4 linked regions of the Homo sapiens genome follow. The protein of the gene in region 2 interacts with the protein of the main gene of each other region in a pairwise test. Each region holds a gene or a part of one and is shown on either strand. Other genes may lie near its edges.

Region 1 (7,811 bases), on a different chromosome or scaffold from region 2:
GCCCTCATGACTCAATAGAGCGTGGCACTGTCTCAGGATGGCAAGGTCTCAATTTAACCCTCCCTAGAGGGGCCAAGTCCACAAATAGCTCATGATGTGCAGAGTCGTCACCCATGGCTGGGTCCAGATGACAGCCAGCATGGGCTATTGACACATCTGGACCACAGCTTCTCTTTTTCCATCCAGATGCTCAAGGTCCTATCAGCACACCTGTTGCCAGCTAGCCTATGGGAAAGCCCCCAGGCCCTGCCCTTTCTGGGAAGGAGAGAGGACTCTTTCGGGGTGCAGGAAGATAACCCCCCACTGGAGTCAACTGAGGACCACAGCCTGGAGACAACCTGGGCCGAGCGCACAGCTTCCAGGACACCCCTCTGCTCTTTTGCTTGCTCCTGCTCTAGAACGTCTCATCACTCATAGGCATTGGTTCTCAACTGGGAGAGATTGGGCCCCATAACTAGAGACATTTTTGGTTATCACAAGTGGCAGGGTAGGGAGATGGGCAGTGCTGCTAGTATCTAGTAGGTAGAGACCATGGATGCTGCTGAACTTCCTCTAACGCACAATTCACTCCCCCAAGATGAAGAATTATCCAGCCCAAAATATCAATGGTGCACTGCAGAGAAGATCCAACTTCTTAGCTTGTCACTCAAAACCTTTATCACCTCCTCCCCAAACTCCAGGTTTGTCTCTATTGTGTCCCTGTAGAAGCCGAACACATACGCCATTGCTCACCTGTTTCTCCTCACCTTCCATACTGCCCACAACCAAACTCTCCCTCCTGCCAATGGCACCACCTCCAAGAAGTCTTCCATGATTGCTAGGGCCCACACATTCTTCAGCTCTGTGAGCAGGGACCGTATATCACACCACCATTTACAGGTGAGGACATCGGATGGCACGATCAACAAGAAACCTTAACAGCCCCACAGTCCCGGGTTTGCAGGGCAGCCTCTGGGCCCACACAACCTGCAAATGGATTTGACTTGGCCTGCACTGAGATTTTTTTCTACCATGCATCAATCACTAGCATTGAAACATCAGAAGATGTGACACAAAAGCCTGCTCCCTATTCTCTAAACATCAGAAGAGCGGCCACCAGGGCCCACAATCCTTCGTGGCAACAACAAGCAAAAACAGAGAACAGCTGCAGGGTGGGCCAAGCAAGGGCTCCCGGGGTCACCGCAGGCCCCATCTGCCCCCTGCTGTCACTCACATGGCCTGCCCAGACCCTAGAGGCATCAGAGTTGGAGACCTCTGAGCCAGTCAACATCACCTTACCCCTGACTTTATAAAAGGGAAACTGAGGCCCAGAGAGAGGCTTGTCTGAGCCCATACAGCCAGTTAGTGGCAGGGCTGGGGTGAGGACCCAGGGACTTGCTACCTGTGAGGCGCCCCTGCATGCCACACTGTCCTTCTAAGAATGTGCATAGTCTCAGAGCTTGAAGGCCTAAAATACAGGGTACAGGGACACTCAAAGAGTGATTTGCTTCTCTCAGCTCTTGCATTGGCAGGAGCTCGGAAGGACAACCTCTGAGTTCCTCCTCCCAAAACTAGAGTCCTTGAATCTGACAACTTGACTCCAAGGATGCTGACAGCAGGTGCCATGTCTGATGCACAACGAATAATAAAGCACTCACCTGTGCGTCAGGCGTGGTTCTGCATGCTTTGTATGTATCAACTCCCTGAGCCTCACAACAAACCCTATCAGATGGGTATGATAATTCACATCCCCATTTTTTTAAATGAGAAAACTGAGGCTCAGAGAGGTTAAGTAAATTGCCCAAGGCTGCAGAGCTGGGAAGCAGGGAAGCCAGGATTTGCATGCAGGAGTCTGCATCCAGAGGCCGTGGGCTAACCACTGAACAGCATCGCCCCCCTGAAGGCTGGGCTCTTGCCACAGCTCTGCCTGCCCTGCCTGTGACAGGAAGCAGACGCAGGCAGGTCTGAGTTTGCAGCAACCCACCGCAGCATGTGGATCTAGGCTAATTTTGAGGAAGCCCTTCCAGACTCATGAGAAAACTGTTAACCACAGGCCCTGAGTCACCCCAGGAGGAAGTCGCTTGGGTCTAGGGGAGATGAGTGTGGCCAGGAGTTTGGGAGTAGGGTGGGTCTAGGCAGGACAGTACAAGGACACTGACCCTCAGCCACCCCAGGCAGAGGGGCAGCCTTGGCCCCCGGGCACTGTGACTTGCCCAAGACCACACTGTGAGTCACCAGGAAAGGAGGAACCAGTGACAGCCGTGACTTCACAAGTTGCCCAACAAGAGCTTGGGCCGGACAAGTTACCCTAATGATTAGCACAGGTCTCAAGTTCTCTTTGGTGGGCAGAAGGCCGTGGTTTGACTGAGCTGGAAGCTGAGAGGACACGGCCCCTGCCTCCCCACTGGAGGCACAAAGGGGAGATCCCCACTTCTCATCCCCTCGAGTGGCCCAGGCTCCCTCCAGGCCCCAGGGGAAGAATCGGGGCTGTGTCTGCGGCCGACCTCACATCCCGGTCAAACAATCCCAGCCCACGTTCCTCCCAAGATCCCTGCCTTCCAAAGCACTTTCACATCTGCTGTTGGCTTTGCACACAAATAACCTTCCGGCTGCTGCTGTGCCCCATCTCACAGAGGCAGAAACGGAGCCAGCCTCGGAGTGAACGTCAGTTACATTTGCCTGGAAAGTGGATTCCAGCTCCCTTACTCCTCACTCTTGCGGCATCTCCCCAGGGTACCCCCAGCCATTTGACAGAGAAGGAAACTGAGGCCCAGAGCAGGACAGGGATTTGCCCAGGGTCCCCCAGAGAGGTGGAGAGCAGGAGTTCTTTCATTTGTGGGGCTCCGTAGATGACGGGTCACCGCAGACATTCACACTCACACAAGCACGCACGCACACACACCCGGGGCCCGCACACTCACCACATGGTAGATGGCCAGGGCGGTGGTTGCGATGCGGACATTGAAGCAGCAGCAGGTCTGGCGGACAGTGGACAAGCGGGGGTCCATGGTGCTGCCGTCCCCTCCTCTGAGACACTGAAGGGGAAAGAGCCTGGTGCCTGGAGCAGGGCAGAGAAGGGGAAGCTGCTGGCTGCCCTCCTCACTTCCTTCCTGCCCCTTAGACAGGCAGGGACAAGGTCGTCACAGCTGGGGCGGGGCAGCTGGGGAGGGGGAGTGGGGACAGGGCAGCAGCCTGCCTCAGAGCACCCCACTGCCCTCTGCCATTCCCAGGAGGGGGTTCCAGAGAGGACAGACCCTAACACGGTCATCATGCCCTTCTCTGCACCAGGGCCAGGGTTCCACCGTTTCACACAGCTTGCTTACTAGAAGAACACTACCAACTTTGGAAGCCAGGACTGTTACCAAGCCCATTTCCAGATGAGGAAACAGCTGTCCAGAGAGGTCAAGGCACTTGCCCCAAATCACACAGTAGTTAGCACTGGTGGCAGAATTCAAACCCAGATCTGTCTGGCTGCAAAAATAGCTATTGTCTAGGAGGCATTTCCTGCCTCTTCCAGGCATGCTCCTGGATTCACTCCTTTCATCCTCACCTCAATCCTTTGAGAGAGGTACTATTATGATCCCCATTTTACAGATGAAGAAACTGAGGCACAGAGAGGGGGAATGATTCGTGCAAGGTCACACAGCTAGTCAATGAAGGTGCAAGGATTTTAACTGAGGCTGACTGGTGCTAGAAGCCTCCCTGGAGCTGGTGTTCTCTCCCACTTCCTCACCCTGAGCCGCAGGGAGAAGCTTGTTCTTCCTAAGCTACGAAGAGGCGTGCAGGGCTCCAGACAAGGACGGAAGAATAACCAGGAAGCAAACCCATCAACTGTGCGCCAGGCCCTGGGCTAGGCTTCTCTTCTAGGTGGGTCAATAACTCTTCACAGCAATCTGTGAGACCCGAACCTCACTTTCAGGGCCTCAAGACCCAATCCCCATACTCACACAAAATCAGGGATTGCTTTTCCCCCTTGATCTTGCAAAAAGTTGGAATTAATAAGCCACAACTCTTAGGCAAGCTACCCTGGAATCTCTACTCCCTCCTCAGATGATAAATTATCCATATTGCAATAAAGAAAGGGAATAGGAAGTACATGCAACATTTCTGGAAGAAGCCCTGCTTCATTCCACAGCTGAGCCCCTTTGCAATGCCAAGCTTCTAGTGCAGAGCAGACAGGAACTGCCATGAAGCCCTGCCCTCCCAGGAGATCATGGAGTTAGGATTGGACACTGCTGCAGCCCATCATTTCTGCCCCAGGAGAGGTTATAGAAAGTCCCTAAGCTCCTCCCACTTGGCAGGAGTTGCTCTGTTAGACCCACAAAACTTGATTGGTGGACTTGATCAATCCATTCTCCATGTGCCAATGAGACCAAGGGGACTCTGCAAGCTTTGGGCTCCTGGGAGGCCTGGCCTATCCCTTCCCAACTTCATTTTCAAGGCTGTTCCTGTTCCTTCATAAGCCTTGCTGAGGCCTGACATCATAGAAAGGTGACACAGTGCAGTGGTTAAGAACTTTGGCTCCACAGGCCCATGGCCTGGGATCTTCTGGCTGGGTAGGCAGAAAACCAAGAGAAGTCCTCCTTTGTCTAAGAGTAGCAAGACCAGAGGAACTGGAGATCAGGAAACCAGGGGCCAGGAGGGCCCTGAGGCCATGCTGGGGAGTCTGCATTTGATTGTGCACAGAAGCCATTTGACGATTTCCTACCATAATAAATGATAGCCATTCATAACATTGTGATTTGGTGAAACCAGGACAGGTGCAAAGCCAACTCCCAAAGAGAGGGATGAAACACACTGACAGCATGTGGAATAATTGTACATGGTCTATGGGTAAACATTTCTCATTTTTTATGGTGATAAATTCATTTTAATGTGCATTATAAAAATATACATAACTAGTCCATGAATCCTGTGATTTTCCATTTATAGGAGTAATATAAAGTCTCATTTTAAAAGAAATGCATTTAAATAAAAAAGGCAGTAAGTCAATTTAAAGAACATATTAAGGAAGCCACAGCCTAGGAGGACGCAGATGTGGCAGACAGCCCTGGAGGTGGAGTAGGTGGCATCCGTTTGGGAATCCTGGGGCATGGGGAATCCCAGCTCCCCACTTAGTAGCTGTGTGGTGTCAGACAAGGCACTTGATCTCTCTGAGCTGTTGTTTTCACCTCTGCAAAACGGCGGGGCGGTTGGGGGGAACAGAAATTTGCCTGGCAGGGCTGCGGTGAAGGTGAAATGAGGTCACGTGAATGCATCTGTTTGTTTTCTCCCTTCCAGCCCGTCCCTGCTCCCCGATCTCACCCGTACTCAGGCTGCTAGGAGGAGGCAGAGCTGGGATTGAACCCCTGATCTGTCTGATTCTGAGTCCCCTCGGGCACTACCTCCCTCGCAGAAGCAGGAGTTCTGATGCAGTCATTTGTCTCTCACCGGGTCACCAGGCTCCAGCACACACTGGCCCCTTGGCAGGCACCTCAGTCACTCCCTGTGGAGTACAAGCCTGAATCACTTTATTGTCATTCCCAACAAACCCCCTGTGGAGAGGACGGCTATTATCCCAAAGGTCAGACCCTTTGGCCAAAGCCACTGTGATAGGCAGAATAGTGCCTCTCACCCCCCAAAAAAAATCCACCCTAATCTCTGGAACCTGTGCGTACATGGCCTTACATGGCAAAGAAACTTCACAGGCGCCATGAAATTCAGGATCTTGAGGTGGGTGGGGAGATTATCCTGCATTATCTGGATGGCCCTGAGGTCATCAAATGGGTCCCCATAAGTGAAGGAAGATCAGAGTCAGAGAGGGAGTGGAAGATGCCACACTCCTGGCTCTGCAGTTGGAGGAAGAACCATGAGCCAAGGAGTGCAGGCGGCATCCAGAAACTGGAAAAGGCAAGGAAATGGCTTCTCCTCTAGAGGCTCGAAAGGGAATCACTTTCATTTTAGCTCAGCGAGGCGCATTCCTGACTTCTGGCCTCCAGAACTGTAAGACAATAAATGTCTGTTGTAGTCACTGTGTTTCTGGTCTTTTATTATAGCGGCCGCAGGGAACAAATACAGCTGCTCAGTGGAAGCAACAGCTGAGCCTGGGGCCCCGTCGCTGGAGCCCAACACACTCCACCGAGACCACAGTCCCCATCTGCACAAGTGCAGCCCTTACTTCCTTGCTGTGTGACCCCAGCCAAGTCGTGAACTTCCCTGAGCCTCCGCTTCCTCCTGCGCCAAGCGGGGATAATGATAATGCCCATCTCGTTGTCTGTACATGCAGGTGGCAACACCACATAAGCTCACTATTTATATTCTGCTGTTTTCCGTTACGAATGATAAGTTTTGAGCTTCTTCAAGTTGCTTTTCATACCTTCTTTGTGGAGTGGTAGAACCCTTGAAAACTTCAGACCCTCTGAATTCATCAAGATAAGGACAAGGAAATGTTCCATGCCACCGCAGCCACGGCAGAGCAGATACAAATCTGCTTGTCAAACTGCCCTTGTCAATGTTATTTCTGACAAAGGAATCTTCTAAGACCCCCTGACTTCAGACATGGTTCCCAGATCCTAGAGAGTCATCTTTAATCCTGAAAAGGTCTGTAATTCTGGCTGGTTATCTGGCTTAATAATTTGCTGCCATGGTATATGAATATTTAAACAGACAGCTCTGTTTCCTCAAAGGCAGAATTAGTTGTAAGCTTTCTTTGTTAAGTCAGAAGAACATCACTGGAACTTCCCTCTTCACCCATAGGCCTGGAGGTAAAAATAAAACCCACGACTCTGCCAGCTTTTGTATTTAAACAAAGAGTTTGGGAGTCTTGTGTCCTTTCCATTAACCTAGATGAAGCACTTAGAAGGGGCTGGGTCACGGTAAGGACTGCACAGTGGGAAGCATTTTGATCACGATTGTCACTATGATTCTTCCTGTCCTTTAAACCCTTTCTCAGCTGAGCCTCCCCCAGCCCTAGCCAGCAGAGGAAGGCAGCAGAGAGGCACTGATCAGCTCCCGTAGACCCAAGGGGCCAGTGATCTGCTGCAAGACACACAGCTGGTCAGGAGCAGAGCCAGGACACAGGTCCTCCTTGGGGACAGCTTCGTGGGCGGCATGTGAGTGGTGGCAGCCAAGGTAGCTCCAGGGCTGTCTTCTCCCGAGGGGCTCCTGGGTGCCCCCTGCAGCTCACCCAGGCTGAAGGTCAGCTTCCTGCCAGACCACTGGCCTGTGATTCCCTTCTGGCTGCAAGCCCCACCTCACTTCTGCCTTTGAGGTTTGGGGCTGGAATGTGTAGGGCCAAAGCCAAAGGCCTGAAAAATGTGAGAAACGGCAGAGCATTCTCTCCTGTCTCCTGCCCCGAACCCAGCACGGTCACCAGGGGTCAGGGCCTACACGTGCAACCCACAGGGTCCCTCCCCTACTCCCCTGCCTGTGGAAGGGGCCCAGGCCTTGAAGTCAGCCTGGAGGGTCAGCCTGGCAAGGACAGCCCACAGGCCTGTGGCCTGGGGACAACCAGACCTTCCAATGACCAGCTGCTGAGTCCAGTGGGCAGGCAGGGGACCCCAACGGTCTGCCAGACACTCCAAGGAGGCCTCCCCTCAGCCAGGCAGTCCAGGGGTCCCTGGCTGCACCCAGGGGCACAATGACACCATATCCTAGTCTGCTGCTGCCACAGGCACTGCAGGCTGAAGGCTCCAGGGAGATGGGACCAGCAGGCAGAAGGAGCACTGGCTGCAAAGTCTGCATAGCCGAGCCAGCAGCCTCCTGCTGAATAACAGCTCTGGGCACACCCCAGGACGGAGCATTTTAGATCATGGGTGCAGCCGTACTATCCATGGGGAGCTGGAAAACCCGGC
Region 2 (7,033 bases):
GATTCTTTACTTTGTTTGGATCATGGACTTTTTTGAGTACTTTATATAAATTATGGAACTTTCATCCCAGAAAAAAATGCATATATATACAACTTTTTTGTTTTGTTTCGCATGGGGGTCTCATACCCCTTGGAATAGATGATTTCCCAGTTCCCTGCTATTTCTTAAAGCTTTTATTTTTTGTCACCAGTAATTATATACTATTGTATTATGATGTAGTTACAAAATTAGCTTTTTGAATCTCATTCAAATAAATGTCAAGCAAATGTGTTATTTTTAAGGAAAACTTTTGGGGCGAAGTAGAAAACTAAACAAGCACTGCCAGGAAAGGTTAAATAAGCAGCTGTGGTAGAAAACATAAATAAACAGAAAGTCTCTAGCTGTCTTGAAATAGAATGAAGTCTGTAGCAATCAGTGGCTCTCATTGTGGGGACAGTTTTGGTTATCACAAATAGGGGAGGGGGCATTTAGTGGGTGGGAGCCAGGGATGCTAAATGTTTTGCAATGCTTAGAACAGTCTCACACAGCAAATAATTGTCCTGCCTAAAATATCAGTGCCCTTTGACAAATGCTGGTCAGTGTGAGATGGGGGCTAGCATGACTGAAATAGCTTTTTTAAACTGAAGTTATTTTCCTTTTTAAAAATACTATTAAACATAAAATACCCCTTTCCATTAATTCCCTTTTGGAAAAATCACAAACAGAAACAAATGATACGCTGTCTCAATGTGGGTTACTCAAAGTATGCCCATCTTCTAGCAGCTGTTAGCAGCACGTGAGGGCAACGTGCTGTGTCTACTGGGATCTGGGGAAGTAAAGAGTCAACTAATGTTCTTATACAGAGTGTTAGTTTGCTATTTTTTCTTTTTACTTTAAAACATTTTCACACCTTGATCTAGTACTATTAAAGAAAATTTCAAGGTGATTTTACATTTATTCTCATCATCTTTGTGCAATTGTATAGTCACCTGCTTGTTTTGGCTTACTATCTGAGAGTGTATTATAGTTGAGATGGTATTTCAACATCTAACCATCTTTTCAGTAACCAAACACTTTTATATAGAACCATCTGCCGAAAAAGAAGTCTGAGCAGTTGAGATGGAATGGAATTCAAGGTATAGAGGCAAGAGGATGGGTTTTGGAATCAGACCTGAAGTGGAATTTCAGTTTTGATACTGCATGTCATGTGACCATAAGCAAATTGCTGAATCTCTTTGACTTGGTAGCCTCATCTGTAAAATGAGGATGATAATGTCTACCTTTATGTTTGTTTTGAAGAGTAGAGTTACTATATGTCTGGCAGGGAGTAGGCCTTCCATAAATGGGTGCCCTATAAAGAATAATGATGATGATGATGAGGAGGAGAGTTCTGTAGCTACTGAACCTTGCTAAAAGCAACCAGATGATGATGATGATGATGATGATGAGGACGAGGAGAGTTCTGTAGCTACTGAACCTTGCTAAAAGCAACCAGATTATGATGATGATGAGGAGGAGGAGGAGGAGGAGAGTTCTGTAGCTACTGAACCTTGCTAAAAGCAACCAGATGATGATGATGAGGAGGAGGAGGAGGAGGAGGAGGAGAGTTCTGTAGCTACTGAACCTTGCCAAAAGCAACCAGATGATGATGATGATGATGATGATGAAGGAGAGTTCTGTAGCTACTGAACCTTGCCAAAAGCAACCAGATGATGATGATGATGATGATGAAGGAGAGTTCTGTAGCTACTGAACCTTGCCAAAAGCAACCAGATGATGATGATGATGATGATGATGATGATGATGATGATGGAGAGTTCTGTAGCTACTGAACCTTGCTGAAAGCAACCAGATGATGATGATGAGGAGGAGGAGGAGGAGGAGGAGGAGAGTTCTGTAGCTACTGAACCTTGCCAAAAGCAACCAGATGATGATGATGATGATGATGATGATGAAGGAGAGTTCTGTAGCTACTGAACCTTGCCAAAAGCAACCAGATGATGATGATGATGATGATGAAGGAGAGTTCTGTAGCTACTGAACCTTGCCAAAAGCAACCAGATGATGATGATGATGATGATGATGATGATGATGATGATGGAGAGTTCTGTAGCTACTGAACCTTGCTGAAAGCAACCAGATGATGATGATGATGAGGAGGAGGAGGAGGAGGAGGAGAGTTCTGTAGCTACTGAACCTTGCTAAAAGCAACCAGATGATGATGATGAGGAGGAGGAGGAGGAGGAGGAGGAGAGTTCTGTAGCTACTGAACCTTGCCAAGAGCAACCAGATGATGATGATGATGAAGGAGAGTTCTGTAGCTACTGAACCTTGCCAAAAGCAACCAGATGATGATGTTGATGATGATGAAGGAGAGTTCTGTAGCTACTGAACCTTGCTGAAAGCAACCAGATGATGATGATGATGAGGAGGAGGAGGAGGAGGAGGAGAGTTCTGTAGCTACTGAACCTTGCTAAAAGCAACCAGATGATGATGATGATGATGAGGAGGAGGAGGAGGAGGAGGAGGAGGAGGAGAGTTCTGTAGCTACTGAACCTTGCCAAAAGCAACCAGATGATGATGATGATGATGATGATGATGATGATGATGATGGAGAGTTCTGTAGCTACTGAACCTTGCTGAAAGCAACCAGATGATGATGATGATGAGGAGGAGGAGGAGGAGGAGGAGAGTTCTGTAGCTACTGAACCTTGCTAAAAGCAACCAGATGATGATGATGATGAGGAGGAGGAGGAGGAGAGTTCTGTAGCTACTGAACCTTGCCAAAAGCAACCAGATGATGATGATGATGATGATGATGATGATGATGAAGGAGAGTTCTGTAGCTACTGAACCTTGCCAAAAGCAACCAGATGATGATGATGATGAAGGAGAGTTCTGTAGCTACTGAACCTTGCCAAAAGCAACCAGATGATGATGATGATGATGATGGAGAGTTCTGTAGCTACTGAACCTTGCTGAAAGCAACCAGAATGCATGGCATGCTCATATGCCTGGATTCCACAGCAAGGAATGGTCTGCAGGATCAGGTCAGGAGGAGATGTTTCAGGGCATTTTCAGTTGGTATTTAGAGTATGTTTTCCCATGAATTAGCTATACTGTGGATTAGTTTTTTTAGTCCTTTAAGCCATAGAGTTCAATTACATTATAGACTAAGTAGGTCAGTGAGGACTAGCTTGGGAACAGAATTTCCTCTTGAATGTTGAACACAGAGCTTTGATGTGGCATAGCCCCAGTAAAAAGGCCCGTTGTCTAAGTGTTTATCACATGGAACTGACAGGTTGTGGAGGTTACTAGTACTTACAGATATTCTCATTTTCATACTAGTTATTTGTAATTCAGCCCCATTCTCTGCGGTTTACATGAGGGCTTTGTTCCAAAATTCATTCAAAGGTTGTTTGATACTGGAAAACTCAGAGGAAATGTATAAATTTTATGTGATGATTAGGAGCTAGGTTTGCTCTCAAAAAGGCCTACTTTACCCTATATGGTTTGATTCAGAAAGAGTTAACCCAATTTAATTAAGCAAATATGATTATGTGGAGCTCCCACTGTGGGCTAAGCAGGAACTTTTCTGGGTGCATAGGCACAGTGATATTAATATAATAGTGAATAAGACCTTCATAAAACATTTACAATCCATAAAGCAACTATACCTTTAATTAGAAAGTAGTCATTATAAGTGCTACACTTTTTAAAATAAACTGCTTTTGGATTGAAGGAAATATCATTTCTGTACCGATTTATGAAAGTGCCAAAGATATATTGTTGGATGGGATAAAAGTAAATTACCTGTGTAGTATTTTTCCCATTTAAAAACTGTTAGTATTCATAGAAAACATATCAAATATGTGACAGTTTGGGAGACTGAACATCATGGTAAGAATGAGGGCTTTGGAGTCAGACTGCATGGTTTTGAATCCCAGCTTGGCCTCTTACTGGAGATGTGAACTAGGTCAAGTGACTTAACCTTTCTTTGCTTTTTTGCGTCACCTATAAAATGTACATAATAATTGCACTTACCTCTGAAGGTTATTGTGAGGATTAAATGAATTACCACATGTCAGGTGCTTAAAACAGCACATAGAAAGCCCCAAAAGGAAAGATCACTTTGGTTAGAGGAATGAACAAGTACCTAGACTGATTGTAGTAGCAAAGTTTTAGGTTTTAGGAGTCAGGGACCAAGTGGATAAAACTCCTTAGAATCTAGCCATTAGATTGTTCTTCATTTTCTTCACTTCCTTTCTTTTGCTTCGTCCTCCAGCTTTCTTACAATCCCTTCTGTGATTGCAACAAGGGCAGACTGTTGAGACAGGAGTGGGATACAGTTGTGCCCCTGGGGAGAGTGAGTCAGGTCTGGTTTCTGTGTTTGGTGTATATGTAGGTGTGTGCGTGGTGGTCTGGTTTTGTAGAATGTTTTTGTGCGGATAACCAAATAATAAACATTAAAGCGGGTTATTTTGTTCTTCTGTGGAGGTTGTCCTTGTAAGCAAGTAACATTTTATTGCAAAATATACAGCGTCTTCAGTCAGAATATGCTTATCTGTAAAATATAAAATACAGTATTGTAACTGATAGGCTTAGAGATTTAGGGAGAAGAAACAGAGAGCAGGGTTTTACCCTCCAGATTCTAGTGGAAGTGTCAGATTACCTGTTCTGCTTTTCTCAGAGATGGAGCAAGCTGTTTCTACTATGATTCTAACCTTCAGGTCTCTTAGGTCATGTTTTCTGTCCTAGGAAATGTAAGGGTAGTACTTTATTTTTTATTACGTCTTGCATATAAAAATACTTTTAAAACTTTTTCTTATTCAATAAATAACTGTTAGTAATTTGAATAAATTAGTATACAAGCTTGTCATTTTCTTATTTGTCCATTTAAATTAACTAGTATTGAAATCAGTAAAATTACAATAATCATGTATTAGATACACATTAATTTCTTTTTTCTTATCTCTTGCAGGATTTCTGGTAGGTCCTACTTTAGGACAAGATGTGGTACCGTTGAAGCGTCAGTCTTTGATTCACAGACAGTTGAGCTTTTCAGCTGGGAAGCCTTTCCATTTTTTTTTTTTTAACGGCTTTCTGAACCTATGAAACCATGGCAGAAGGAGAGACAGAGTCACCTGGGCCCAAAAAGTGTGGCCCATATATTTCATCTGTCACTAGCCAGAGTGTGAACTTGATGATTCGAGGAGTAGTGCTATTTTTTATTGGAGTATTTCTTGCATTAGTGTTAAATTTACTTCAGATTCAGAGAAATGTGACGCTCTTTCCACCTGATGTGATTGCAAGCATCTTTTCTTCTGCATGGTGGGTACCCCCATGCTGTGGCACGGCTTCAGGTATGTGTAGGATGTTTCTGTAATGCTTAGAAAGGAAATAGGGTAAATGAGTATGGACGTTGTCTGAGCAATAAACCTTTTTAAAAAAGAAAATATATTTATTGAGATATAATTTAGGTATAATACACTGGACCCGTTTGAATTGAACAACTTGATGTGTTTAGGCAAATGCGTACAGTCACATGACCACTGCCAATCCAGCTGTGGAACATTTCCATCACCCTCCAGAGTCTCTCGTGTCCTCTTGCAGTCCATTCCCCACCCCCAGCCTCAGGCTACCACTGATCTGCTTTCTGTTGCCATAAATTATTTATCTCTGTTCTAGAATGCAATATAAATGGGCTCATAACGTATGTACTCCCTTCTGTCTCATTCTATCTGTCCTGTAAACTTTTAACATTTAATTCTGAAAAACAATCCTGTTTCCCTTAGGGATGAAGCATTTAACCCCTTAATTTTGTTCTTTCTTCAACCCATCTCATCTAAGTGTTATTTTAAGTTATTTGGATGATGAGCACCACCATTTGGTTTTAAGGGTTTGATGCATGTGCTGTAGTCTTGTTTCTGAAGTAATAAAAACTTGAATAATTAAAGTTTAAAGCTTCATGTTGTATTTTTGTAAATGCTTTTTTCCTTGGTATCTTGTTTTTATAAGTACCTTAGAATAATAAATATTTAAAGACATCTATAAGGTAGACTCTCTTTGCTTAAAATTAGTATCCTATTAGTTACTTTAGATATTTTTTTGGTGGTGGGCAGTGTGTAATGCATAGAGTAGAGCATTTCACAATACTTTATTGCTGCCATACTTCCACAATGGATAGCACTTTAGTGTTTTCTAATGACCAAGACCAATAGATTAATACTGTTTTTAATAATAAAGTAATAAAAGGAAACCATAATCATGTGGTAGAAGATAATTCTGATTGAAGGAGAAAATTGCTTTTTAAATACCCATTTGGTGTCTCATACTTAACATATATGAATGAATATCTTGCAACATAATATATGTCCTTCTTGGCTTCCATCCAAGAGCGGGAGGTTGAAGGATGAGGTTGCGCTTTACGGAAGTGTTAGAATGGCCTTGTGAAACTTGCTGGACAATTATAGAATCCTGTTGCACAGTTAGAGGGGCACTGTTGTAGTAAGGCTTCAGTGTTTATATACTGATGTCTCACTATTACATCGTTCACATTAAAAGTGAAGTCATGAAGGCAGTGATTCTTAGTTTCCCAGGGTTATCATTCTCCAAGAGAAAAGGCAAAAAATAGTCCAAATAAAAAACAAATTAAATTGTATCACTCTGCTGTATGTACTGGTCCTCATGCATTTTTCTTTCATTTAAATTCAGAAGAGAAAACGTTTTCTCAACAACTTTTCTAGTTCTTTGTTTCTTTTCTTCTATAGTATAGTCTGGCTGCCAGTAGAAGCTTTTTGGGACATGGAAGAGCATACATGTCTTTTCAGGATAGAACAGAGGGAAGGGAAACTGTTGTTTATTGAATGTCTGCTAATGTGCTAGGTACATCCTGTAATCCCAGGGTTCTGTAGAGCAACTTTGGGAGAGAGATGTTTGGCATTGTGCCTGTTATGGGGAGATGAGGACACTCACTGAGATGAAGAAAGAAAACCAGTGAGCCCAGGGTCCCAGAGCCAGTGAGTGGTGTGACTGGGTCCACATGTCACATGCT
Region 3 (3,306 bases), on a different chromosome or scaffold from region 2:
CCGTCTCAAAAAAAAAAAAAAAAAAAAAAAAAAAAAAAAAAATTAGCCAGGCACGTTGGCACATGCCTGTAATCCCAGCTACTCGGGAGGACGAGGCAGGAGAGAATTGTTTGAACCTGGGAGGTGGAGGTTGCAGCGACCCGAGATTGTGCCACTGCACTCCAACCTGGGTGACAGAGTGAGACACTGTCTAAAAAAAAAAAAAAAAAGAAAAGAGATGAGGTAAAAATAAATAATCCTAAGGAGTCTATAGTATCGGGGGCTGGGGGAAAGGGATCTAAGTCTGAAAGGGGAAAGGGCAGGGTTGAGTTGCAGGATGCAGAAACATTCTTGGCTGGGTGTGGTGGTTCACTCCTGTAATCCCAGCACTTTGGGAGGCCAAGGCGGGTGGATCACCTGAGGTCAGGAGTTCAAGACCAGCCTGGCCAACATAGTGAAACCCTGTCTCTACTAAAAATACAAAAATTACCTGGGCATGGTGGCGGGCGCCTGTAATCCCAGCTACTTGGGAGGCTGAGGCAGGAGAATCACTTGAATCCAGGAGGCGGAGGTTGCAATGAGCCAAGATCCACCATTGCACTCCAGCCTGGGCAACAAGAGCAAAACTCCGTCTCAAAAAAAAAAAAAAAAAAAGAGAGAGAGAGAGATACAGAAACATTCTTTAGATTATTTGAGGTTACCAGAGAAAACAGGTCCTTCTAGCAGAGCAGGAAGCTGGGTTGTAAACATGCTTCAAAGGATATTCATAAAATTTGGGGCAAGGAGTGACAATGAGTTTGGATACTTGTAAAAAATGAAGCGACAGTTAAGTGTGAAGTAAGTCTCTGCTGTCTGAGGGTGTCCTGTTTCCCTTAGTTTCTTAGCTCTGTTCCTTCTTTCTTCACAGCTCTGCAGTCGGTGTTTGGCCCTGCAGCTCGGAGGATCCTGGCTGTGGCTCACTCCCACAGCTCCCTGGGCCAGCTGCCCTCCTCTTTGGACACCCTCCCAGGGTATGAAGAAGCTCTTCACATGAGTCGCTTCACAGTAGCCATGTGCGGGCAGAAAGCACCTGATCTACCCCCAGTACCTGAAGAAAAGCAGCTGCCTCCAACAGAGAAGGAGTCGACTCGAATAGTTGACTCTTGGAACTGATGAGAGCTGTCATTTTATAAATAGGAGTGGAGTGATGTCCAGAGTCTGTGGGAAAATGGAACACATACTTTTCTAACCCTCAGAAGTTTTAAGATGGCATCTAACACCATCATTCTATGGGAAAGATGGTTCTTACTCTTCGTTCACAGGCCTTTATATCTTCCGATACAGAATGCTCTAATTGGGAACTCTAATTTTGTATCCAATGGCCAAAATCTGCAAGTAATCTCTAGCCACACTGATTACTACTAAACCAGGAAAGCATCAAGGTGTCTTGAATTCCTTTAACTATTGAGTGCATATAGAATTCCTGTACCCACATGATACTGCAAGTTGTGTCTCTCTCTGTCAGCGAATCCACTGCGGTTAACTGGAAAAGAAAGACAACAGTGTCAGCACAGCCATCGACATTAATGCACTGAATGCATGCATCTTTCCTCCTGAGACAGCAATCGATTTTACACCGAATGACAATGATCATCTTAGACAGCACAACATACCCACTCGGATATCTAAAAGCTAGGGATGGCATTGCTGATATGGGCAAAGAGAACACAGTATAGTATTTAAGTGCCAAATATCAGTCTTTCTTTCTCTCTGGTCCTACCCCTCAGCAGTATGAAAAACTCCATACTGTGCAGTCACAGTTGGATTAATTCTTCAGTTCCTCCGCACTGCAAACACATATATGTGCGCACATGCATGTATACCTGCACCCTGTTTTAACTCTAAAGGAATAGTGTTGCTTTACTTCTTTCCTGTTTTGCCTGGACCACTTAAAGCCACAACACCTCTATAGTGACACACGCTAGTCTCTAGTGGTGGCCCTCACTGCCACCTAGAGGAGCCATGGTGGAAAACACACTCTCTCCTTTGAGCCTATCTGCACATCTCTCGAGTTCTTGGAGCAAAAACTAAATGCTGAACTAAGCCTGGTTGAGATGCTTCCCATGGACCATGCCGCAGCACAGTGCTAATCTATCCACAAAACATACCACCTCCCAAAGTATTATTATTGGAAAATCGAGGAAGTGACGCACATTTAGGGAAAAACTACTCACCTTAGAAAAGTCACTGAAATCCTTTTTTTTTTTTTTGAGATGGAGTTTTGCTCTTGTAGCCCAGGCTGGGATGCAATGGCATGGTCTCAGCTCACTGTAACCTCCACCTCCCGGATTCAAGCAATTCTTCTGCCTCAGCTTCCCGACTAGCTGGGATTACAGCTGCCTGCCACCGTGCCCAGCTAATTTTTGTATTTTTAGTGGAGAGGGGGTTTCACCATGTTGGCCAGTCTGGTCTAGAACTCCTGACGTCAGGTGATCCGCCCACCTTGGCCTCCCAAAGTGCTGGAATTAGAGGCCTGACCCCCTGCTCCTGGCCTGAAATCTTTAAAGCCGTTTTTTCCCTAAAAAATGGGAAATAATAACACCTCAGAAGGTTTTTGTGAAGATCAAAGAAGCTAAATATATGTGGCATGATTTGTAAAGTGTTATGCATATGTATGTTATTCTTCCTACTGTCTTCTAACCTTCCCTTGCCTGCTATGACTTATCTGAGAGCCATGTTCCCATTTATCTTTTTGCCAACTATGTTACTGTTGTCACACCTGAAATGGCTTTGTTTTTATCAATAAATACTTGTTGATTGCGGTAAACAGCAACAGATATAAGTGATTCCTCGTAATATGTTCTGGGTAGAGGTAAGGAATATTTGAGAAAACTAATTGTTTATTAGGCAATTAATTAACTCCAGAACTCAAGGAGGCAACACAGAGCCAAGAATTGGCTGATTATGCAGCTCCTTGTTAACTACATTCTTGGAATGCTCACTCAGCCCGGAGGGAAAAATGTTCTGAGTATAACCTGCTGGGGATCTGAAATTATCCTGAGTCATTTAACAAATTGGCTCTGGGAATTATTGAAATGCATGAATTGCTAATAGCGCCTGAAGGGACCTTGTTTTACTGCTGCCAAATGAGTCATTTAGTCATCAAAGACACATTCCAAAAGACATTCTAGGCTCTTCTATTAAGGCACCAGGACATCACAGACTTGGCAAAGGTAAAATGTTCATTGGCATTAGAATATCTTGGGGGAAATCTTGCCTATAATGTCTTATCCTAAAGGATAAGACATAATGTCTATTCCTAAAGGAATCTCTCTTCCCCACATCCAC
Region 4 (7,748 bases), on a different chromosome or scaffold from region 2:
GGTGAAACCCCATCTCTACAAAAAATTAGCCAGGCTTGGTGGCAGGCGCTTGTAATCCCAGCTACTTGGGAGGCTGAGGCAGGAGAATCGCTAGAACCTGGGAGGTGGAGGTTGCAATGAGCCAAGATTGTGCCATTGCACTCTAGCCGGGGCGGCAATGCGAGACTCAGTTTAAAAAAAAAAAAAAAAGTTTTCAGAGGATGTACAACAGCTCTGTCCATGGAGGGCCTCACAGCTTCGGAGCTGAGTCCAGGCTGGGTGTGCAGAATGCCAGCTGACGGATGTACTGCTGGCCAGCTGTGGGTCGGGGGGCAGCCTGGGTACGCCAATCAGTTGGACGGAGGCTGCAATACCTCTATTTAGGAGCCCTGGGCACTCTCGGAGACAATGGGCATTATTTTCCCTTCAATACCCCTCCGCATGGCTGCTAGATTCCAATTCCTTAACCTCTTGTTCCTTTCCAGCTCAGTGTCCTTCCATAGCTCCCCAGTACCGACAGGATAATTAGGCCACATTCACCTTTCTATTCTGGTTGGAATCCAGTCCCTTCTTTGAATTCCCCTCAAATATCTCCTCCTCCATGAAGCTTTCCCTGATATATTTGTGTCCTCTGTGGGAGCCTGGCGCTTAGTTTTCCCTTGCTTGACGCCACAGTCACTTTCTGTCTGTCCCTGCATTGCCACTGTCTTGAAGGTAGGCATTTGGCATTGTCTCTGGCTTGGCTCTGGCTTCAGTTAAGACCAAACATAGTTTTCTTCCTCTTCTAAAAAAAGATAATGTTTTTGCACGTTTATCTAGACAATCCGGAAAATACATGAAAACACAAGGCAGAAAACTAAACCACGGCTGGGAGCGGTGGCTCATACCTGTAATCCCAGCACTTTGGGAGGCCAAGGTGGGCGGATCCCTTGAGCCCAGGAGTTCCAGGCCAGCCTGGCCAACATGGTGAAACCCTGTCTCTACTAAAAATACAAAAATTAGCTGGGTGTGGTGATGCACGCCTATAATCCCAGCTACTCAGGAAGCTGAGGCACAAGAATCACTTGAGCCCAGGAGGCAGGGGTTGCAGTGAGCCAAGATCACGCCACTGCACTGCACTCCAACTTGGATGACAAAGTGAGACGCTGTCTCCAAACAAAAACAAAAACAAAAACAAAAAAACAAACTAATAGGACCAGGCGTGGTGGCTCACACCTGTAATCCCAGCACTTTGGGAGGCCGAGGTGGGCAGATTCCCTGAGGTCAGGAGTTCAAGACCAGTCTGGCCAACAGGGTGAAATCCCGTCTCCACTAAAAATACAGAAAAAAAAAAAAAAAAAAAAAACATTAGCCGGGCGTGGTGGTGCATGCCTGTAGTCCCAGCTACCCTGGAGGCTGAGACAGGAGAATCTCTTGAACACAGGAGGCGGAGGTTGCAGTGAGCTGAGATGGCATCACTGCACTGCAGCCTGGGTGACAGAGTGAGACTCCATCTCAAAAACAAAACAAAACAAAAACAAACAAACAAAAACTCAATACACCTGTATTAGTATTGAGTTTAATTGACATACCAAAACATGCACAGTTCCTAAGCATTCAGCTGTTTGCATACATATGCACCCCTGCAGCCACCATCTGTGTCACCCCAGAAAGTTCCATAATGCCCCTTCCCAGCCAATACCCATCTTCACCCTGGAGAGGGAGCCGCCAATGTCACCTCTAGCGCCATAGATTAGGTGTGCCTGGTAATGAACTTCATGATGCCCAGAGATGACTACTATTCCCATTTTGCTGTGCTATATTTCCTTCCAGACTTTCACACATGGATTTTTTTTTTTTTTTCTTGAGACAGAGTCTCGCTGTGTTGCCCAGGCTGGAGTGCAGTGGCACAATCTCGGCTCACTGCAAGCTCCGCCTCCCGGGTTCACGCCATTCTCCTGCCTCAGCCCCCTGAGCAGCTGGGACTACAGGCGTCCACCACCACACCCAGCTAAATTTTTTTGTATTTTTAGTAGAGATGGGGTTTCACTGTGTTAGTCAGGATGGTCTCGATCTCCTGACCTTGTGATCTGCCTGCCTCGGCCTCCCAAAGTGCTGGGATTACAGGCACCTGCCACCTTGCCCAGCCATACATGGATTTTTAAAGAATATAGGATTCTAATGGACACAGTGATTTATACAGCATGCCATTTCATTCAATAGATCATGCGATCATGCATCTCCAAGACAGTTTCCTTCGTGAGCTTTTTTTTTTTTTTAGACAGAAGAATCTTGCTGTGTTGCCCAGGCTGGAGTGCAGTGGCACGATCTTGGCTCACTGCAATCAAGGCCTCCCAGGTTCAAGCAATTCTCTGCCTCAGCCTCCCAAGTAGCTGGGACTACAGGTGAGTGCCATCACACCCGCTACTTTTTTTTTTTTTTTTTTGAGACAGAGTTTCACTCTTGTTGCCCAGGCTGGAGTATAATGGCGTGGTCTCAGCTCACTGCAACCTCTGCCTCCCTAATTCTCCTGCCTCAACCTTCTCGAGTAGCTGGGATTACAGGCATGTGCCACCCCGCCCAGCTAATTTTGTATTTTTAGTAGAGATGGGGTTTCTCCATGTTGGTCAGGCTGGTCTCAAACTCCTGACCTCAGATGAGCCGCCTGCCTTGTCCTCCCAAAGTGCTGAGATTACAGGCGCAAGCCACCGCGCCTGGCCTAGTTTTTTAATTTTTAGTAGAGATGGAGTTTCGTCATGTTGGCCAGGCTGGTCTCAAACACCTGACCTCAGGTGATCCACCTGCCTTGGCCTCCCAAAGTGCTGGGGTTATAGGCGTGAGCCACCATGCCCAGCCATCTCTTCCTCCTTTTGATCAGCATATTGTCTTGGGATTTTGCAAAGTAAATAAGTACTGTATTTGCACCCACTCTGCCCTTGAATCATCCAGTGTCCCCAAACGGTCCTTCTTTCTCCATCTTTTCTGCTAATGTTTACTGAACATCTCCTACATACCTGGCACTGTGCCTCCAGCCTTAAGACCCCTCTGCAAGCATCTCACATATATCAGGTCTTTCGGACCCATGAGACCCCGTGTCATTGCTTTACCTCCCTGAGTCTCAATTTTTTCATCTGCAAAATGCATTCAGAGGGAAGCCCCCATTATGAAGGGTTCCCTGCTCCTGACTGTAAGGCACTCTGTGGCTGTTAGCCACAGTCAGGGCGAGCTGCTTTGTAGGGGTTGATGTAGTTTGGAGGCCCTAGAAGAAAAGACTACAGGGCCGGGAGTGGTGGCTCACGCCTGTAATCCCAGCACTTTGGGAGCCCGAGGCCGGTGGATCACCTGGTGTCAGGAGTTCAAGACCAGCCTGGCCAATATGGCAAAACCCCGTCTCTACTAAAAATACAAAAACTAGCCGGGCATGGTGGCACACGCCTGTAATCCAGCTACTAGGGGGGCTGAGGCGGGAGGATTGCTTCAACCTGGGAGACAGACGTTGCAGTGAGCCAAGATTGTGCCACTGCACTCCAGCCTGGGCAACAGGGCTAGACTCTGTCTCAAAAAAACAAAAACAAAAACAAACAAAAAAACCCCACAAAAGCAAAGAAGGTCCAGAGCCCGGAAGGCGGGAGGGGCTCTGAAGACTTTATCACACTTTACCTCCTCTGTTCCTCCCAACAGCCCAGCTCTTGGTAGGTGCTGTTGTCCATTTCACAGATGAGAACATTGAAGGGGAAGTAATTACCCTAGAGGTGGGAAGAACAGAGTGAGGGTACCCAACAGGTAGCAAACGACAGAGCTGGGGGAGGGGAACCCCTGTCCCTGCCCCTCCCCTAATCTCTGAGGGGATCAAGACAGAAGTAAACAAGCTTTGCCGTGCCCAGGACAATTGTTACTTTGTTATTCCAGGAGCGCTCTGCCTTCTCCCACCCCCAATATACCCCAGGGCTGGAGTTAGGTCCTACCCATCCCCGCGTAGCAGGCTGCCCACCCGCCCACCCCGCCTGGAAGCTTTCTGATTTCTCTGTTCGCCCCGCCAGGCGCTGTGGGGTCCGTCTCACCAGGTCTGCACGTGAGCCCCCTGCCCCCAATCCCTCCCAGTCCCGCCCGCCTCTCGCGGACCCGGAGCCCCGACGGGAGGGGGAAGGCAGTGGGTGTGTCATGCAGCTGGAAGGCTGCGGACGGGCGGCAGTGGAGGGGCAGCCCCCTGGCTTCGGGTATGGATCACTGGATGCTGCTGCTAACCAAATGTGAACCTCGGTTTTCATATTTGTGAAATAGGCTTTAAAACACCTAAATCCCAAAGCTGCCAGCCTAAGGAGCACACGTCTTTGAACGCTGGCTTCACGCTGTCATTTAAGTCATTTCGTCCTCTTGGAGCCTCGGTTTCCACGTGGGTAAAATGATCGTGAAAAAAAGCACCGAGGAGTACTTTGAGCTCGAACGGAGGCCATCCGTGTAAAGGGCCAGATTCTGTCAATGGATCGATCCCCCCGATATTGATGGAAACCCCTGAGTGCACGCCCGTGCTGGGCGCAGGGGAAACAGCGACGCACGGGACAAAACAAGCTTGCAGAACAGCAGGGGGCAGAGAGGCTGTAAACAAGCCAACGGGCTGCACTTGTAGCGGTTCTGTTGCCAATGCCATTCAGACCCCAGTCCGGGATTCCGCGCTCGGGGTGCGAGAGGCCGCTCCCGGGGAGGGGCGGGACCCGGGCGGGGCGGGAGGGGCGGGGCGCCCGGGCCTATTAGGTCCCGCGCCGGCAGCCGGGCCGCAGACACGAAGCCTCCCGGGTGGCTTACAGACGCTGCCAGCATCGCCGCCGCCAGGTGAGTGCCCCCGACCCTGCTGCCGCCCGCTGCTCCGCCCAGCTCGAGCCCGGCGGTTAGCGCCCAGGCCGCGGCCCGGGTGCCGAGCGGCTGGAAGTGTGGGGAGCCGTGCCCAGGTTTTACCGCTCCAGCAAGTCGCTGGCGGGGCGACGTCTCGGGACTCCGGCTCCGAAACGTACCCTCTCTGTCCGGGGCTCCAGGTCCCCGACGGGCGATCGTGCCAGGCGCGGCCCCTGCGGGCCTCAGTCTCCGCGCCTGTGCAATGGGGTGGTCCCTCTGCGTCTCGCCGCGACGGCTGGACGCCCCATCGCCGCCGCACAGTCCTCCAGTGCGGCTTCCGGGCACCCGGCTCCGAACTCTGGGGTCGTGCGGACCCGGCCAGACCGTAGCGCGGCAACGCCAGCCCACGGCCGCGGCCGCACAGCCCCGGTGCCCTTAAAAGAGGGAAGATGGCGTCGTGCCCGGTGCCGCCGGGACCGGCTCCCGGAGGCGCTGCGCACCTGAGGAAGGGCCGAGGAAAGGCTTCGTAACGGGACGCCCAGAAAGTCCGGAACAGGAACGTGCACACGGAGCGGCGCGCAGCCGCCCGCCCTCGCTTGCCCACGCGCCCTGCACAGGTGCGCCCCAGACTGGGCGGGGACTAGAGCCCGGCTGGGGCATGCGACCTTGTTTGGTAAATTGGAGGTGCGCCCCTGCGGGTGACCCGCGAGGGGGCCCCCCGCCTGCGGGGCGCGGTCACGACAAGGCTTGTGGGGTTCGGAGCTGGTCGTCGTCTGGGCTCTGGCCTCCTAAATGCGATCGCTTTCAAGCCCTTCATTGTCAATTTTGCTAGAATGAGCCACTCGTGGGGTAGGACGTGGTTGTTGATGTTACTGTTGTAGCTCTTACTATTGTAACATTTTTGTTGCTGTTTTAACGCAGTGTTTACTGTGGTCTGGGAGCCCGAGCTTCCCAGGGAGCATTGGTGTCAGCCTCATGTCCCCGCATTAGGAGGAGCGCAGTCTGGTGGGCACTAGCGCCGGGAAGTTCTTAACATCTGTCTGCCCCTGGGAGCAGGAGGCCTCATCTTCCAGGTGGAGAAACAGAGATTTCAGTCCCAGGAGGCACAGAAATGCCAGGGTTGTCTAGCTAGAAGCCAAGGGCCCTTTATGGAACCCAAGCCAAAACCTCTTTCCACTCTCCAGCCCTGTGGCCTCGGAAGGGCCACTCCATCTCTCTGAACCTCAGTTTGTTCTGTTCACTCTGCAAAATGTATCCCTGAGGTTTCTGGCCAGGTGAAAGCCCCTCTCAAGTTAGTAGCCTCCCTGGAGTTAAGACTCACCCCGATTTCTACTTAATTTGGGCACGCCTTTGGAATAAGTTCTCAGGAATGGCACAGTTTGGGTGTTTTTTGTTTCTTTTTGTTTTTTTTTGAAACAGAGCTTCGCTCTTGTTGCCCAGGCTGGAGTGCAATGGCGCCGTCTCGGCTAACTGCAACCTCGGCCTCCTGGGTTCAAACGGTTCTCCTGCCTCAGCCTCCTAGTAGCTGGGATTACAGGCGCCTACCACGAGGCCCAGCTAATTTTTTGTATTTTTAGTAGAGATGGGGTTTCACCATGTTGGCCAAGCTAGTCTCGAACTCCTGACCTCAGGCGATCCACCCGCCTCAGCCTCCCAAAGTGCTGGGATTACAGGTGTGACCCACCCCGCCCGGCTTGAGTGTTTAAATACTCCTGCCTCAGCCTCCCAAGGTGCTGGGATTACAGACGTGAGCCCCTATGCCTGGCCCTTTTTTTTTTTTTAATTGTCTTAAGGATGTTAAGACTAAGATTCTCACACATTTGACTCGTGCCTGTAATCCTAGCACTTTGGGAGGCTGAGGCAGGAGGATTGCTTGAGCTCAGGAGACTAGACTGGGCTAGACCAGACTGGGTAACATGGTAAAACCCTGTCTCTACCAAAAATACAAAAAATTAACCGGGCATGGTGGCATGTGCCTCTGGTCCTAGCTACGCAGGAGGCTGAGTTCAGAGGCCTACCTGAGCTTGGAGGGGTTGAGGCTGCAGTGAACCCTGATCATGCCACTGCACTCTAGCCTGGGAGACAGAGTGAGACCCTGTCTCAAAAAAAGGAGCATTAGGCTGGGCATGGTGGCTCACATTTGTAATCCTAGCACTTTGGGAGGCCGAGGGAGATGGATCACCTGAGGTCAGGAGTTGTGAGACGAGCCTGGCCAACATGGCAAAACCAGTCTCTTTTAAAAATGCAAAAATTAGCCGGTCGTGGTGGCGTGTGTCTGTAATCCCAGCTACTTGGGAGGCTGAGGCAGGAGAACTGCTTGAATCTGGGAGGCAGAGGTTGCACTGAGCGGAGATCACACCATGGCACTCCAGCCTGGGCCACATAGGGAGACTCTCTGTCAAAAGAAAATTTAAAAAAGCATCAAATGGTAGATCCCCAGTGTCTGTTACAGCTTGGGTACTCTATGGCTGGATAGAGAGGCTGCATACATGTTAGTTATTGTAAGTTTGTTTGTTTTTTTGAGACGGAGTTTCGCTCTTGTTGCCCAGGCTGGAGTGCAATGGCTGGGAATACAGGCGTGAGCCACCTCACCCGGCTCAAGATTCTTACACATTTGACTTGCCTGTAATCCCAGCACTTTGGGAGGCTAAGGCGGGAGAATTGCTTGAACCCAGGAGGCGGAGATTGCAGTGAGCAGAGATGGTGCCACTGCACTCAGCCTGGGCTAACGTGAGACTCCATCTCAAAAAAAAAAAAATTACGTCTTGTGTCACAGAGCTGCAGATAAACCAGAGACTACTCATAACCGTGTACTTTTTTTTTCCCCCATTTCTGATCCCGTCTCAACGGAAGGATGTAATTGAGGAAGGGCTTGATTGGCCAGTGAGTCTTGAAGCTGACACCACTGCTGGTGGTATTTTCCCCTCTCCCTGGAAAGCATCCTGTTTTTAGTGAACCTA

The links.
Region 1: the proteins of INSIG2 (region 2) and LAPTM5 interact in binary tests that used the Homo sapiens proteins (3 or more experiments, as listed by UniProt).
Region 3: the proteins of INSIG2 (region 2) and TMEM52B interact in binary tests that used the Homo sapiens proteins (3 or more experiments, as listed by UniProt).
Region 4: the proteins of INSIG2 (region 2) and BIK interact in binary tests that used the Homo sapiens proteins (3 or more experiments, as listed by UniProt).

Annotation. Positions count from the first base shown.
Region 1 is NC_000001.11:30,754,759-30,762,569, forward strand, and holds the start of LAPTM5 (lysosomal-associated transmembrane protein 5), read right to left. Parts: upstream 3,017-7,811; 5' UTR 2,988-3,016; coding exon 2,901-2,987; intron 1-2,900. UniProt on the Homo sapiens protein: May have a special functional role during embryogenesis and in adult hematopoietic cells.
Region 2 is NC_000002.12:118,091,459-118,098,491, forward strand, and holds part of INSIG2 (insulin-induced gene 2 protein), read left to right. Parts: intron 1-4,960; 5' UTR 4,961-5,098; coding exon 5,099-5,342; intron 5,343-7,033. UniProt on the Homo sapiens protein: Oxysterol-binding protein that mediates feedback control of cholesterol synthesis by controlling both endoplasmic reticulum to Golgi transport of SCAP and degradation of HMGCR.
Region 3 is NC_000012.12:10,189,010-10,192,315, forward strand, and holds the end of TMEM52B (transmembrane protein 52B isoform 2 precursor), read left to right. Parts: intron 1-886; coding exon 887-1,131; 3' UTR 1,132-2,795; downstream 2,796-3,306.
Region 4 is NC_000022.11:43,106,016-43,113,763, forward strand, and holds the start of BIK (bcl-2-interacting killer), read left to right. Parts: upstream 1-4,734; 5' UTR 4,735-4,788; intron 4,789-7,748.